Linked DNA regions of Homo sapiens. The protein of the gene in region 2 interacts with the protein of the main gene of each other region in a biochemical or structural test. Each region holds a gene or a part of one and is shown on either strand. Other genes may lie near its edges.

Region 1 (8,189 bases), on a different chromosome or scaffold from region 2:
TGGGGTTTCACTGTGTTGGCAAGGCTGGTCCTGAACTCCTGACCTCAAGTGATCAGCCCACCTTGGCCTCCCAAAGTGCTGGGATTGTAGGTGTGAGCCACCACGCCAAGCCGTGGATATTTTTCTTAAATTTCTTTTCCAGCAAATGCATACCATTTGTTTTTTAGTATCAGAATGTAAATTCCCACAGTGAGAAGCAACTAAATAATACTTATTTTCATCTTTTATACCCTTTTTTCTTTTCTTTTCTTTTCTTTTGTGTGTGTGTGTGTTTCTTTTTTTTTTTGAGACAGAGTCTCACTCTGTTGCCCAGGCTGGAGTGCAGTGGTACAATCACAGCTCACTGCAGCCTCAACCTCCCAGGCTCAAGCATTCCTCCCACCTCAGCCTCCCTAGTAGTTGGGATTACAGCCATGTCCCACCAGGCCTGGTTAATTTTTTTTTTTATTACTTTTTTTTAGAGACGAAGTCTCACTATGCTGGTCTGAAACTCCTGGGCTCAAGCCATTCTCCTGCCTTGGCCTCACAAAGTGTTGGGATTACAGGCATGAGCCACCAAACCTGGTCCTATCTATAATTAAAAGCACGTAACTGAAGACCAATTCTTCATTACAACTGGAGACCCTAATCTGAAGAGGCTAGTTGGGAGCAAGGTGGTGTAGACACTACTGGTATCCCAACCACGGACCAATTGACACTTTGGGATGAATAATTCTTTGTCATAAAGGTTTGTCTTTGCACTGCAGGATGTTCAGCAATATCCCTGGCCCCTACCCATTAGATGCCAGTAGCACAGAGCTCCAACACAGAGATGTGACCACCTAAAATATCTCCAGACACTGCCAAATATTCACTAGGGAACAAAATCAGCTTGCTTGAGAACGATTGCGTTAGGCCAAAGACCTCACAAAATCAAATCCTCTGTGCCTTTGCCAATTCAAATTGCTCCTTTAACTCCATGGTCAACTCTACCCACTTAGCCACCCACCAACATAAAATACAGACACAAACACCCTCACATTCTTCATATGAAATACCTTGAACATTGTCTAGTGTTCTTCCTCTGAGCCATATGTGGCCAATTTGGCTAAGAGGAGAGAAGTAACCACTGATGCCTATTTCCTACCCTCCACTGACATGGGAGTTCATGCTTATCCTTTTAAATGTATTTAAGTTCATAATGTGCTGACTTTCTTTCTTTGTTTCTTTTTGGAGATGGAGTCTCGCTCTGTTGCCCAGGCTGGAGTGCAGTGGCATAATCATACATGACTGAAGCTTCAAACTCCTGGCTTCAAGCAATCCTCCTGCCTCAGCCTCCTGAGTAGCTGGGATTACAGATGTGAGCCACCGTGTTGGCATGTCTTGACTTCTGAAGCTCTAAAATGCCTCCAGCTTCTTTATCCACTAGCCACGCTCTGTAAATCCATGCTCCTCCATAAATTTTGTTTGACCATAATATTATTTAATTAACTATGTCTATTCTGCCTTGAAATTGTTTTCTTCATTTGGCACTTAAATATACAGTTATGACCCAAGCTCAAGACAGCTATTTCCTGAAGTTATTCTAGATTAGATCCTATTAATTAAAACTGGGAGTAGGGATTTTTAGAATCAAACCCCAAAATCCTTTTTTCCTAAAACATTCCAAAACAATGAGACACGTTAGCTTATATAAATTTTATTTTCGTGCCTCTTAATACCTTTGAGGGATGTTTATTCTCCCCACTACCAGCCGTCTGGTGTTTGAAGCAGTGAGGAAAATGGTCAGAGCTAATTGATTTCCTATATGGAGAAAACATTATTAATGAATTCTTCACTGTGGAAAATTCTGAAAAGTGGATCTGCCATTACTAGATTCATAGCCTTGAGCAAGCATGTTAATCTCTCCTAGGCTATTTCATCTTTGGTAAAATGAGGATGCTGACATCTACCCTCTAGGGCTATTATATTGAATGAAATGACCTGTTTCAAGCTTTTAGCCCTGTGCTTGATATACAGGTGTTTTATGAGTGTCCTTTTTAGTGCTGCTTCTCTTCTTTATTTCCAGCACTTGCTAAATACTTTCTGGGGTCCAGGGCAAAATGAAAATATGGGGCTTCCTTGTTAAAAAATTAAGAATTTCAAGACAAGAGCAGAATATGAAATCAAGTGTTGAGCCCTATGTGACTGCCTACGTCACATACTCATCAAGCCAGCCCTGCTTGCTCCCCTAGGATTTCCAAGGGTCTACTTTTCTATCCTTTCACGAAATTAAAAGCCACTCTTCAAATTAAACAACGGATGGGGAAATAAATGCAACTAACTAAAGAGGGCTTGATTACGTGCATTGTTTTTTAACACTGTCTCACTTAAGCAACATGTTGAATGTTAGTGAGCCTAGGGCTCTTCTAGAGAGACCGTTTTCATCTGCCATAGTATTTTAGTGTTTATATCATTTTCTATCTGGAAGAATGAAAAGAAAAACAAACTTTGGTTGTCTATTAGTAATCAGACCACTGAATGTTGTCCAAGAAGCACTTAGTGGACAAAGAGACACTCAATTCAAAAGCTCTCTATGTAGGCTGGGTCGCGGTGGCTCATGCCTGTAGTCCTAACACTTTGGGAGGCCAAGGCGGGCGGATCACTTGAGGTCAGGAGTTGGAAACCAGCCTGGCCAACATGGTGAAACCCTGTCTCTACTGAAAATACAAAAATTAGCTGGGTATGGTGGCACACGCCTGTAATCACAGCTACTCAGGTGGCTGAGGCAGGAGAATTGTTTGAACCCAGGAGGCAGAGGTTGCAGTGAGCCCAGATCGCACCACTGCACTCCAACCTGGGAGACAGACTGAGACTCTGTCTCAAAATAAATAAATAAATAACTAAATAAAATGAAAAACCACCAAACAACTATCTAGACTTATCAAACAGCTTTCACAAAGATAGCAGCCTAGCTCTCTGAACAGGTAATTTATAACCTAGATAGCAGACTTTGAAAGAACTGGTCCAGACATCTAAGAATTAAATATGCAAAGAGGAAGATTTTGTTTCCAAACCACTGAGACCCAGCTCTGCTTGTTATTCCCTTTTCTTCATGGATGCATCAACATATCCTTTAAAGCAGGGGTCCCCAGTCCCCAGGCCATGGACCAGAACCAGTCCCTGGCCTGTTAAGAACCATGCCGCATAGCAGGAGGTGAGTAGCGGGCCCGGGAGTGCAGCTTCATCTGTATTCACAGCCACTCTCCACTACTGGCATGACTGCCTGAGCACTGCTTCTTGTCAGATCAGCAGCGGCATTAGATTCTCACAGGAGCCTGAACGCTACTGTGAACTCGCATGCGAGGGATCTAGGTTGCATGCTTCTTATGAGAATCTAATGCCTGATGATCTATCACTATCTCCCATCACCCCAGATGGGACAGTCTAGTTGCAGGAAAACACGCTCAGGGCTCCCACTGATTCTACCTCATTATCTATTAAAATGTAATAATAATAGAAATAAAGTGCACAACAAATGTAACGCACTTGGATCATCCCAAAACCATCCCCCTCCCTTCTGTCTGTGGAAAAATTGTCTTCCATGAAACCAGCCCCTGGTGCCAAAAAGGTTGGGAATGGCTGCTTTAAAGGGTTTCTCAAGGTTCTAATATTTTATTTGATAAGAAGTAGAATCATATAAAAAACCAAACATATGTGTTAATTTGGGTATTTATACAGATATAGTGTATATACATACATACAGGCATGGAGGAATTTCCAAATTTCCTCTATTGTAAAACATACACATACACACACCAACACACACATGCACACATGGTATCCTAATAGAAGGCAAGGAGAATAGACATTTACTGAGCACTTCCTATGTGCCACATGTTTTATATACATTAGGATATTACAGTATATGGTAGCTTTTATCCATTCATTCAATCTCAATACTTTTTTTTTTTTTTAAGAGTAGAGCAACTGAGGCTCACAGCAGTTATGTAACCTGCCCAAAGTCACACAGCATGATGGAGGGTCTGGATTGGAGATTTTGTCTGACTACAACACTCATGTATCAAATCCTATTCAGTTTTGATGTTAAAAATTCTGTGGTTGAATTCGTCACAGTGTCTTTAAATAAAACAACAACAAACAAAACACAGCAAACCTTAACATAGTTGCTAATCATATGAGTTTACAAGGCCACCTGTGTCTTTACTATCAGTTACACTCCTTCCCACCCCATCACATTAATCACTCAGGTCTAGGGATTTGCAAGTTTGCTAACAGCCGAATGGAACAAAGACAAAACGCTAAAATTTGTGATGTGGGCCTAACTCCAAAGCCTTCAAGAAAAAAAAAAAAAGGCCAGGCGCAGTGGCTCATGCCTGTGATCTCAACACTTTGGGAGGCCTAGGAGGGTGGATCACCTGAGGACAGGAGTTCGAAACCAGCCTGACCAACATGGTGAAACCTCGTCTCTACTAAATACAAAAAAATTAGCTGGGCGTGATGGCGCATGCCTGTTAATCCCAGCTACTTGGGAGGCTGAGGCAGGAGAATCGCTTGAATCCGGGAGGCAGAGGTTGCAGTGAGCCGGTATTGCGTCACTGTTGCCCACTCCAGCCTGAGCAACAAGAACGAAACTCCGTCTCAAAAAAAAAAAAAATAGCCATTTGTGCTTTCAATCTCTCCGCTTCCGGCCTCCACCCGGCGGGAAAAAACTCCCGCACGTGGGCCTCCACGATTCCTTGGCATGCGTGTCACTCTGGGCAACAGGCTGGTCGGCCACGACTGCGCAGGCGAGAGGCACAGAGCGACTGGAGACTGTAGTCCCCCGGTTTCCCTGGAGACCAGGCGGAAGCGGCCGGAAGTAGCGCTGCGGTTGGCAGCGGCGGGATGGAGAAGCTGGGGGTGGAGCCGGAGGAGGAAGGCGGCGGCGACGACGACGAGGAAGACGCCGAGGCCTGGGCCATGGAACTGGCGGACGTGGGGGCGGCAGCCAGCTCGCAGGGTGCGCCGCAGCCAGAGGAGCCAGCGGCCTCCTTGGGTGTAAATGAGAAGGGTGGGGCAGGCGGACGCTCGGGGCGGCGGCCACTGGGGCGCGACCGTCCCCGCCCCACTCGGCTCCTCTAAGAGAGGGCTGCCTCCCTCTGCCTTGTGTTACGCGGCGGGTACCTCTAGAGGAATGGCTTCACCCAGCAGGAGTAGGGTGGGGCGCGTCCACACTACAAATACGTGTCGAGGGTTTATCTGCGCCGTCCTTTCCTCTGTGAGGGGCGAGGTGGGGCGGGAATCCCTCAGCCAGCCCGACGAAAACTGCAGAGGCTTCTGGGCCTTTTAACTTTGGAGAAGTTGAGGACCTTGTCGCTCATTTGGCAGAAGGTGGGACCCGGATCTCAGTCCTGGCAGGAAGGGATGGCTCAGAACCTAGGCGGAGTCAGGTCCGCTGTGGTCACGTCTCCGGTGACCCACTTCCAGCTCTGGTCTTTACCTTGTACCGCCCACCTCAGGGCCTGGATGTAAAGGCACCGGTTCTCATTTCCTGCTGGTTTTGTTTCATTCATTAATTTAGAGACAAGGTCTCCCTGCAGCCTCGAACCCCTGGGCTCAAGTGATCCTCCGCCCCAGCCTCTCCGTCCCGAGTAGCTGGGACAGCAGGCACGTGCCACCACACCTGGCTGATTTTCAGATTTTTTTAGATCAGGTGTAGCTGTGTTGTCCAGGCTGGTCTCAAACTCCAGCCACAAGCGATCCTTCCACCTCAGCTTCGAAAAGTATTGGGATTACAGTAGTTAGCCATCGTGCCTGGCCTTTTAAATTTTGGAACTTTAGGTTTACCTGAAAGTTGCAGAGCTAGATCCCCCTAGTGTTAACATAAACTCAGTACATTTGTCAAAACTAGGAAATTAACATTGGTATAATACTATTAATTGAACTACACGCTTTATTAATATTCTACCAGTTTTTCTGCTAACGTTCATTTTCTGTTCCAGGATCCCAACCAGAATATTGTATTGTATTTTGCCTGTCTTGTTTTTAGCCAGTGTTGAGAGAAGGAGTCGCCTCTGTCATTCCCTCCCCGACAAATAATGACCTAACAACTTTTTAAAATCAAAGAACTATTCAGTCTTTCAATTTAGTGAATATTTATTGGTGGTCTGTTATGTCCTAGACACTGTTTTAGGCACTGGCGATTTAGCATTAAACCAGATAATCCTGCTGCCATGGGAGCTAAAAATAGCCCACACTTGTACCCACTGGTTGTCTTTTGCCATTTTGTATTTCAGTTTTTGTTGGTTTGTTTGTTTTAAATGTAAGGGCATGCTGCTTAGAATAATTTTCAAGCTGTGTGAAAATCAACGTCATTTCAACTTTTCTGCCCCTTCTGGTTTACACTAAGAGCTACTATAAACTTCCAGGTGATAGTATTAGCTCTTTCATCATCCATTATTTATCACATTTTTTCCCTTCAAACTTATTACTATCCTGAGAAAAACGCAGTGCACAAACAGTAATTAAGAGGACTGAAGACCCTACCCTAAGTGGAGTTTCATGTCTTTGTAATTTTTCGATGCTTTCACACATAATCCAGGAGAAAACACGTCACTCTGCATTCTTCCTTCACAGGTACCATGTTTTAAGGAACTGTCAGTTGCTCAGAGATAATAAGCAGCCTGAATTTCTTTTTATTTCTTTGCATATTGTGCAGGAGTTCATGATCAAGTGTTGCCCACACCAAATGCTTCATCCAGAGTCATAGTACATGTGGATCTGGATTGCTTTTATGCACAAGTAGAAATGATCTCAAATCCAGAGCTAAAAGACAAACCTTTAGGTAACTGTAGATTTATAATATTTTTAATTGCATAATGATTAGATTAGCAACTCATCATGCTCATTATATACTGATTTATTAACCTTATTAAGAAAGATTTTGGAAGCAGTTCTTACAGTGCTTTATAGCTGGTCATTTTTGCTTCACTACCAAGTGTAAATTTTACAAGCCTCATTTAATAAGTGGTGAATCTGAGAATAGTGTAGTCGGCAGAACAAATGAAGAGAAAGCAGAATAAATGTTACTTTTCTGTGCTGGTTAGTAGCTTAGTTTGCTGGTCAGATTTCTTTTTCTCACTATTTGAAATTTTACAGGCTTTGTTCTCAAAAACAGCCTCTTATTACATTTTAGTGGAAGTGTTCGTCTGTCCTCCCCTTTCTGAAATTATCTCTTAAATTGTGTAACATCTAACTAACTAGTTGGATTTTGAACATAAACCTAAGTATTATTAAGACAGCAAACTTGCCGTAAAAACATAAGCATCTTTTTAAATAAAAGCCAAAATAAATTTTATATTGGATATTTGTTGATATGCTAGCTTGTTTTATCATTTTTATTATTCATATTTTAAATTGAGAAAGATAAAGAGATTTTCTTTCATGCATGCAGGAAAGATTCCTCTTTTAGTGTAAGCATAAAGAACATTTTTGGTTCACTTGCTGCTACCCTCTTGTGCCCACTTTGGCTTAATAAATCCCAATCCAGCCTAGCTGATTTACTGAAGAACAAAGGGATGACTAGTTTTTGCTACGCCAAGGTGAGTCTAGGATCTTAAAACTTTTCTAAGGGTGCCAAGGAGTTAGAATCAGGGGACCTAAGTTTTTTCTCCTGAAGGCATTTCTGAGTAGTAGCACTGTGTTATAAGATGTTCTGTAGATAATGCTTAATAAAAAAACTGTAATTAAGTACGAATGAATGATTATTGGGAAGTGAGGGATATGAATGCTCCATGTTTTTGGGGGAAAACGAAAGTAGTCTTTCATTTTGTTTTTGTTGTTGTTGTTGAGAAGGGGTCTCACTCTGTAGCCCAAGCTGCAGTGCAGTGGTGCGATCTTGGCTTACTGCAAGCTTTGCCTCTGGGGCTCAGGTGATTCTCCTGCCTCAGCCTTCCAAGTAGCTGGGACTAGAGGTGTGCGCCACCATACTCGGTTAATTTTTTTGTATTTTTAGTAGAGACGGTTTCACCATGTTGCCCTGGGTGGTCTCGTATGCTTGAATTCAGGCGATCCACCTGCCTTGGCCTCCCAAAGTGCGGGGACTACAGACGTGAGCCACCGTGCCCGACCAGTAGTGACATGCAGTGATGAGGCCATATAATGTAATGCTCTATTAAAGGACTCCTTTTTTTAGTTAAGAAATCTAGCAATCTGATTTTTTATGTAGT
Region 2 (7,568 bases):
CATCAAACTCAGTAAAACATAACAGAAAACACCCCACATAGAGTCTCTATCACTTTCTAGGACAGAACCATGAGCTTCTCTCTATACCTCAGTTTCCACAGCTATAAATTATAGAGTATTAATCTCTGAGGTCTCTCCCCATAAAAAAATCCTATAATCTGTAAAAGGAACTAAAATTTCAAACCAGATACTAATTTATAATGACTGGCCCAGAAAAACAGTATGCTACTGTGTGTGCATTTGTTTTTGATGACAAGAAAAGTATTAAAAAACAAAATACAATGAACCAATGTACTTAAGATGTGAAATAATCTCACTGAAAGTTTACCACTGTTAATTACAACAGCTCTATGTCAAAATTAAAAAATCATTATGATGCAAGCTTCTAGAAATTAACAATTACTCTTATCAAACCAATTTCATTCTTACAGGAGTTTAAGCACTGGATAGATGTTATATTAACACAGTTCAAAACTTCACCAACTGATAAGGTCTACGTGAGGAATGAATGCTCAGAATCCCAACCATCTTACTGTTTAAATTCTCTGAAAATTTTCAGTCAGCCACAATTATATCTAATTGTTTTAAAAATATTTTAATAAATTAGCTTTCTATGTTATGCTTACTGTAACTTACATGATTTGACATACTTAGAGACTTTTATGAGAACTTCATATTGACCAGAAATACCAATAATAGCATAAGAGCAAAATGATCAAGCATGACTGTTTCTTAAGAAGACAATTTTAATAAGTATCTACCTGTGTCAGTTACAACAAGTGCAGACCTGCCTGTTTTCATTTTTTTTAACTTTTCCCTTCCTGGAAAGATACCATTACTTTGTCTTTGTAGGGTATTGACAAACTCAGTCAATTCACACTTCCACATTGATATGTGATGCAGTCTTGAATGAGAATAGAAGTTTGAAATAAAATTGCAGTCTGAAGGTTTGGATGGCACTGAAGGTGCTGCCTTGCTAAACGTAGATACTGAAGAAGTGCTTTTTGTGCTTGAAGGCCCCTGAACAGTGGAGTGGTGAGCACCATTGATTTTAGTGTTACTGTGCAAAGGTGATAATGAGAAAGAATTAGTTCTGTGTGGATTCCGCAAAGCATCTGTGTTTCTGGTGCTTTGCTGCAACTGCTGCAGAGTGCAGTCTCTGAAATCAGTGCTGCTCTTCTCAGCCTTATCCTCCTCCTGGGAAAAGGCTGGAGAAAGCCTGCTGGCAACACTGTTGACCATGGGCACCAAGCAATCCTGTGTCTTTAAGGCACCATTAGAGCTAGGAGTGTGTCCATTAAAAATGGCAGTGCTCCCTCTGGGATGCGGAATTCCATTCTGTTTCCTTCCCGGAGAGGTCTGCTCCAGATCCACAAAACTAAAATCATTATTTTCATCTTCTTCATTCCAACTGTTCATGCCATTGACTTTGACTTCATTTTCCGTTTCAATCTTCTTAACGATGTGATTTCTAAAGCAGGAAAAAATTTTTGAGTTAATAATATCTGACTTTTAGGTTAAAACAATTTTTTCATTTCATCATTTTCTTAGTGGTACACAGTTTGGTATTTCCCCCTTTAAAAACAGAAAATTCTTATATTGAATATTGACAATGAAAAAAAAAAACCCTGAAACTTAAACCACAAACTTTATATTCTGATTTGACAAAAGATCATTCTTTGCAAAAGTAGCAAGATAACTAGAAAAATTCTAGAATATTAACAGCCCTTTAGGTGTTTTTTGTTTGTTTTTTATTTTCACTTCAGATAGTCCCAAAGAAGAAATAAAATAGAACATTTCTCATGGCTGAAGAAAAACCCAAAAAACTTTTCAGTTATTTTTCCCATAAAAAATTAATTGGAATCTATAAGCTGTAAATACCCAGTTCTGAAGCACAGTGCTTGGCATTTACTACATGGTCAATAAATATCTGCTGAATTAATATACTACAAATAACTTTCATAAAAATGGATTTAAAAACCTTACTTGAATTCTTATTCCTAGTTTTAGTTTTTATGAAAGGTACTATTCAACACATTAAATCTAATACGAAACCAGATGGTTTCAGTAGGAAAAAAACTGACTATATTGATTAACCTATTAATGAGCTAACTGTTGCACAAATAGACAAAAAGTAAAGCCATGTCAATGTGTGGGGGTAATTCAGTAAAATTTACACCTAGAAAAATAAGGACGCTTGCCTTACTGAGAAGGGAAATTGCACTTCATTTCTAAGAAATGCATATTTAGATGCCAGGGTGGTACAAGGCAATCTGGACCAAGTTTCCTGATGACAGCTTTATAAATGCAGAACCCATGACAAATGTTATGCTAAAGTCACATCCTGGCTCCTCTAGACGTTTGTTTAGAAATGCATTCACGAGAATCATCTAAGTAACAAAAACAAAAACCTGAATTACAAAGCAGTAATTCATTCTACTTAGGAATGTCCAAATGTCCATAGCATTAATTCAATTACAGCGCAGGCTCCAGATGAAGGGCTGCCCTACAGAGTAGTAAGCCACAGGTGAAATTACCACAGTATTATCAGGTTCCACCTAAAGCCCCTCACCCTAATACCAACTTGGTTTATTAGTAATGAGAGCCTGACTACACAGAAAAGTCCCACAAGCTGGATGATCACCCATTTCTGGGTTAGCTCAGGCTCTGGCTAAACATCATATGGAATGTGACAGGCAACTGTGAGTAGATGCCATGCTCACAGATGATCATGCCAGTGATGGGGAAAAAGACAAAGTAGATATGATTAAAAGAAGAAAAAAAGAAAACCTAATTTGTCACATGCAGAGAAAGTTCAGCCTCTTGAGATAAACAGAATGCAAGGGAGCAAGAAGTCACAGATGAGCATTTCAAAGAAATGTACAAAATGTACTGAATATACCCCCCAAAAAAACCCCAGAAAACAACAAAAGTGATGTACGTCAGAAAGTCTTACATCTAGTTTTGTGTCAAAAACATTCAGACCCTTTACATGCATTATAGCAACACATGCAACAGAAAGCCATATATTGGCAGGAAAATACATTGTTAACATACATTCTTGCTGTACTATAGTTTCTCAGCCTAGACAAATGGACATTTGCAAAGTAGCTGTACTGGAAATATCACGGGTAGAGATACATTTTTTAGGCAATGGCATAAATGTATTAAGAAGTAAAATCTAAAAGGTAATTTCTTCCTAAAGTGTCACAAAGAAGATTTTGAAAAAACATATCTATTTTCTACTTTTATTAATGTGGGTAAGAAAAGAAAGCTAAAGCTACGTATTCTGTGAAAAGGTTTTCTGGTATTATTTGCTATATACCTTGATAGCACATTAAAAAAAATTAAAAGCTACAGGTAACATGAAAAATATTTGAATATGCTTGTGAGTACAAGTTAAATTAACAAATGACAACAAAAATTACAGAAGGCAGTGATACTGGATCCTCTCAGATTAATTAGACTCCTGGTGTTTTCGAAAAAAAATATATCCAACTCCCAAAGCAAGCAATTTAATAAATAAAGAGAAGGCTAACCATAATGAACCACCTGATATACAAGGTAAGGCAACCCACCAATTAATTGTGAAACAATTTATCCAGGGTTGCAATTAAAAGCTTAAATTAAAAAAAAAAAGCAGCCACATGGAATAGTCTAGATTCACTTTCAATTCTATAACCAAGGGTCACCAACTAAACTTCCATTTATATATTTACATATTTAGAATGTTATGAATTTTGAATTTTTCAAAAATAACCCAGAAATATTAACATTTTCATTGTCTTTCTATGCATGGAACACAACAAAAATATAGCTGGTGCAGTTAGTTCCATTTTTGAGAAAGCAATACAGCAAATTACTTGTGAGGAAATAATTACTTTCATAAAAATCCATGAAAAAACTTATTAACAATTAAGATCCACTAGTTTAAGGTGAGAAACCAGTATGACTGTAAAAACTTACTTACATTTATGAAATTATCATTATAAAAATAATTCATTTTTAGATAAGACACTCATACACACATATTTCAACATGTTTATTATAAGTGAATGGCCAGGGTTTGTATCTGCTTCTGTCTGACTGTAACAGAGCAGGGGCCATGCTCACTGCTAAAAACCAGCTTTGTGGCCAGGCGTGGTGGCTCATGCCTGTAACCCCAGCACTTTGGGAGGCCAAGGAAGGTAGATCACAAGGCCAGGAGTTCGAGACCAGCCTGGCCAAGATGGTGAAACCCCGTCTCTACTAAAAATACAAAAATTAGCCAGGCGTGGTGGCACACGCCTGTAAGCCTAGCTACTCGGGAGGCTGAGGCAGGAGAATCACTTGAACCTGGGAGGCAGAGGTTGCAATGAGCCGAGATCATACCATTGCACTCCAGCCTCGGCAACAAGAGCAAAACTCCATCTCAAAAAAAAAAAAAAAAAAAAAAAACCAACCAGCTTTGCAGTAATCCCCAACTAGACAAACTTACACCCTGTTGTTGAGCTGTTTGGCTATATTGCTTGGACCTGGCAGAGGATCCTCAGGTCTGCATACAGGATTAAAGCTGAGACCTTTCTGCACACTGGACTGCTTGGTGTACAGCTGATATGGAATGTAGGAGAGGAGTCGTCCAGCTTTGATGCTGAAACAAAAAGCAACACCAATTTAGAGTTCCATACTTGGTGACAATGAGCTTCATGAAAAATATTCAATGTCCTTAAAGATACAGTATTTCACCAACAACAGGTCATCTGTTTTCCTAGTTTATTCCTTCTTGCTCGGTTTTAGTGGTCCTAATACAATATGATCTTAGAGTGGGGAAAAACTGCAAGCACAGAGCTGAACTAGTCAATATTTTAAACCTCATGACTTTAGTATTTACCACCCTGTCAACAGTTAACAGAGAATCATCAAGACTTCATCAAAATCTCATCTATTAAGGTTTTCCAAGATAAATAAACTGAATAAGGATGCTCAATTTCCAAATTCATGTCAGAAACTGTAAAATAAAAATATAGGACAAAATAAAGAATCTCAACTTCAAGAGTAATAATTTATACTATTTTTATGTATACAAGAATGGTTAAGAGCCAAGGCCATTTGAAGATATGAACTCTACAAGGGCCAAAACTACCATGTACATCCTCACAGCATATCACACAACACCACTCAAATCCAGGGGAACACCAGTGTTCTAACGCTAGGTGGTACTAGCACTGTAACTGAAGTTCCCAAATGTCTGCTTCCTTTTGTACTTCAGAACTAAAACTAATTTGATTGCAGTATCTAAAACTGACATTTTCTTGCTAATAAACTGAGTTATATATGGCTACTCTACCTTTAAAATTATCATTTCACTTCAAATTTAAAAATAACCAATCAATATACTTATGCTATCATCCAAATTTCAAAACAAGCTACTTTAATATTAGAAAATATTTCAAAACAACCTCTGGATTTTAAACCTAAAATATATACCAAGGAATCATCCCTCAGTTATTTAGAAAAAGACTGATAAATAACATGATAAAAATATGTTTCTTATTGTCTCATAAATCCAAGACTTGACATTTTCATTTTCTTAAATGGTGTCACACAAAACTTTTTAAAAAATAATCATTTAAGAAATGACTGAATTGGCTTACAGAATACTAATTAAAAATAACTGAGTCAACAACTTGGAATACAGGAAAACATACTAACAGATTCTAAAAACGGAACTATATATGATACAGAGTATGTCCTTTATATAATTATGTCAATATATATTTAACAATTCTACCTAAAGTACCTTAACCTATATCAAATGCTATAACTATTAAATTATGATGGTAAAGAACATACTATACTAGTCGCAAGACATGTAACCAAATGGATTTATGACCAGGCTAAATGTTTTACCAAAATTCAGGTTACATTCAAAATACATTCAAAATTTCAGGTTACATTCAAATATTAGAATCGAAACCCTAAAATTCGACTATTTTTTACTTTATTCTTCCTCAAACCAACTTTTCTTCCTTTTTTTTTTTTGAGACGGAGTCTCGCTCTGTCGCCCAGGCTGGAGTGCAGTGGCGCGATCTCGGCTTCACGCCATTCTCCTGCCTCAGCTTCCCGAGTAGCTGGGACTACAGGCGCCTGCCACCACGCCCGGCTAATTTTTTGTATTTTTTTAGTAGAGACGGGGTTTCACCGTGTTAGCCAGGATGGTCTCGATCTCCTGACCTCGTGATCCACCCGCCTCTGCCTCCCAAAGTGCTGGGATTACAGGTGTGAGCCACCGCGCCCAGCCCTTTTCTTCCTTTAATAGTTGGTCTCAATTGCCTAACTATAAATCTTTGTTCTGTGGTATTATGTATATCAAACTCACTTGCTTCCCCCACCAAAAGAAGTACAGCTACTTAATACCTGAAATAAAATCCTAACCTTAGCTTTCCATCCTTTATCATAGATAGCTATAACTAAGAGACAAGTAGAGAGTGAAACTACACCCACTGTGCCAGCTGCACATCTCAGGTAAAACCAAAAGTGCAAGGAACAAAACGCCCTATGATCATTCTCGCTTTTCCTGCCCTACTGACAGCATGCTGGAGTGATGCAGACTCTACAGGTACTCTCTATGGTCAGCACTGATCATATACAAGGGTGTCAGGCCTTATCCAGCTCCTAACAAGAGCCATGTGGCCACCCACAGAATTCTTAGGCTTACATAAGTCAGTCCATGGAGACTGCTACAAAATTAGACAGCCAATTTAAATACTGCAAGTCTCAAATCAGATATCCTCAGAGATACTCAATAAAAAGAATTAAAGCCCAATGCACTACAGTAATGTTAGTGAAGTAATGTCAGTTATAATTTGAAGCCTAAACCACTATCTATCAGTTGTATACTCCTAACTACCCCTGCTTGCCCATTTATCTATCTATAGATATATAGACAGAAACATTATCTGAAAGCATATTTGTATAAGACCTTTTTAAAAATCTCTCTGGGATTAATTTCTCACATTTACTATTTCCCCTCTTGTTCTAAGCGCAAAGGAACTGTACTGACATTTTCTACTATTCTTTCAAAACCAAAAGGAGAGGATAATAAAAAAATCCATCTTTATCCAAAAGATAATACTACACGGTTTCCTTATACACTGAGTTTTTTCATGTACATTGAAACTATATTCTGATATATACATGAAAGAGTTTACATTCTATACAACGAATCAAAACATAGTCATAGCAAGTGAAATATTCATCTATTTTGGGAAGTCTTACTCTTGCTTTGTCCTACAGCCTCTGCGTTTAGGAACAAAAAAAAAAAACACAAGGAATGGCAAAAAAAACTCATGAGAGATAAAATTGCAATCAACTTTTATTTAAATGAGTTGCATAAGCACTCTAATATTTAAACACTGAATGTAATTAGAAACCAAAGTTTTGACTCATATGTAAGCACATGACAAACGTATATGGTTTGGGAGTTTAGAAAGAAAAGATAAACTGAAAGTCCTACTAGTAGATCCCATTGAGCTGGCATGAACCAGAACAATAAATTATCATTCTGTCTCAACTCCCAACAGATCTAT

Evidence for each region.
Region 1: the proteins of REV1 (region 2) and POLI form a complex in vitro, tested with the Homo sapiens proteins (one study listed by BioGRID).

Annotation. Positions count from the first base shown.
Region 1 is NC_000018.10:54,264,681-54,272,869, forward strand, and holds the start of POLI (DNA polymerase iota isoform a (long)), read left to right. Parts: upstream 1-4,836; 5' UTR 4,837-4,866; coding exon 4,867-4,981; exon of another isoform or gene 4,982-5,352; intron 5,353-6,679; coding exon 6,680-6,805; intron 6,806-6,824; exon of another isoform or gene 6,825-7,562; intron 7,563-8,189. UniProt on the Homo sapiens protein: Error-prone DNA polymerase specifically involved in DNA repair. Plays an important role in translesion synthesis, where the normal high-fidelity DNA polymerases cannot proceed and DNA synthesis stalls. Favors Hoogsteen base-pairing in the active site.
Region 2 is NC_000002.12:99,437,840-99,445,407, forward strand, and holds part of REV1 (DNA repair protein REV1), read right to left. Parts: intron 4,631-7,568; coding exon 4,478-4,630; intron 1,472-4,477; coding exon 762-1,471; intron 1-761. UniProt on the Homo sapiens protein: Deoxycytidyl transferase involved in DNA repair. Transfers a dCMP residue from dCTP to the 3'-end of a DNA primer in a template-dependent reaction.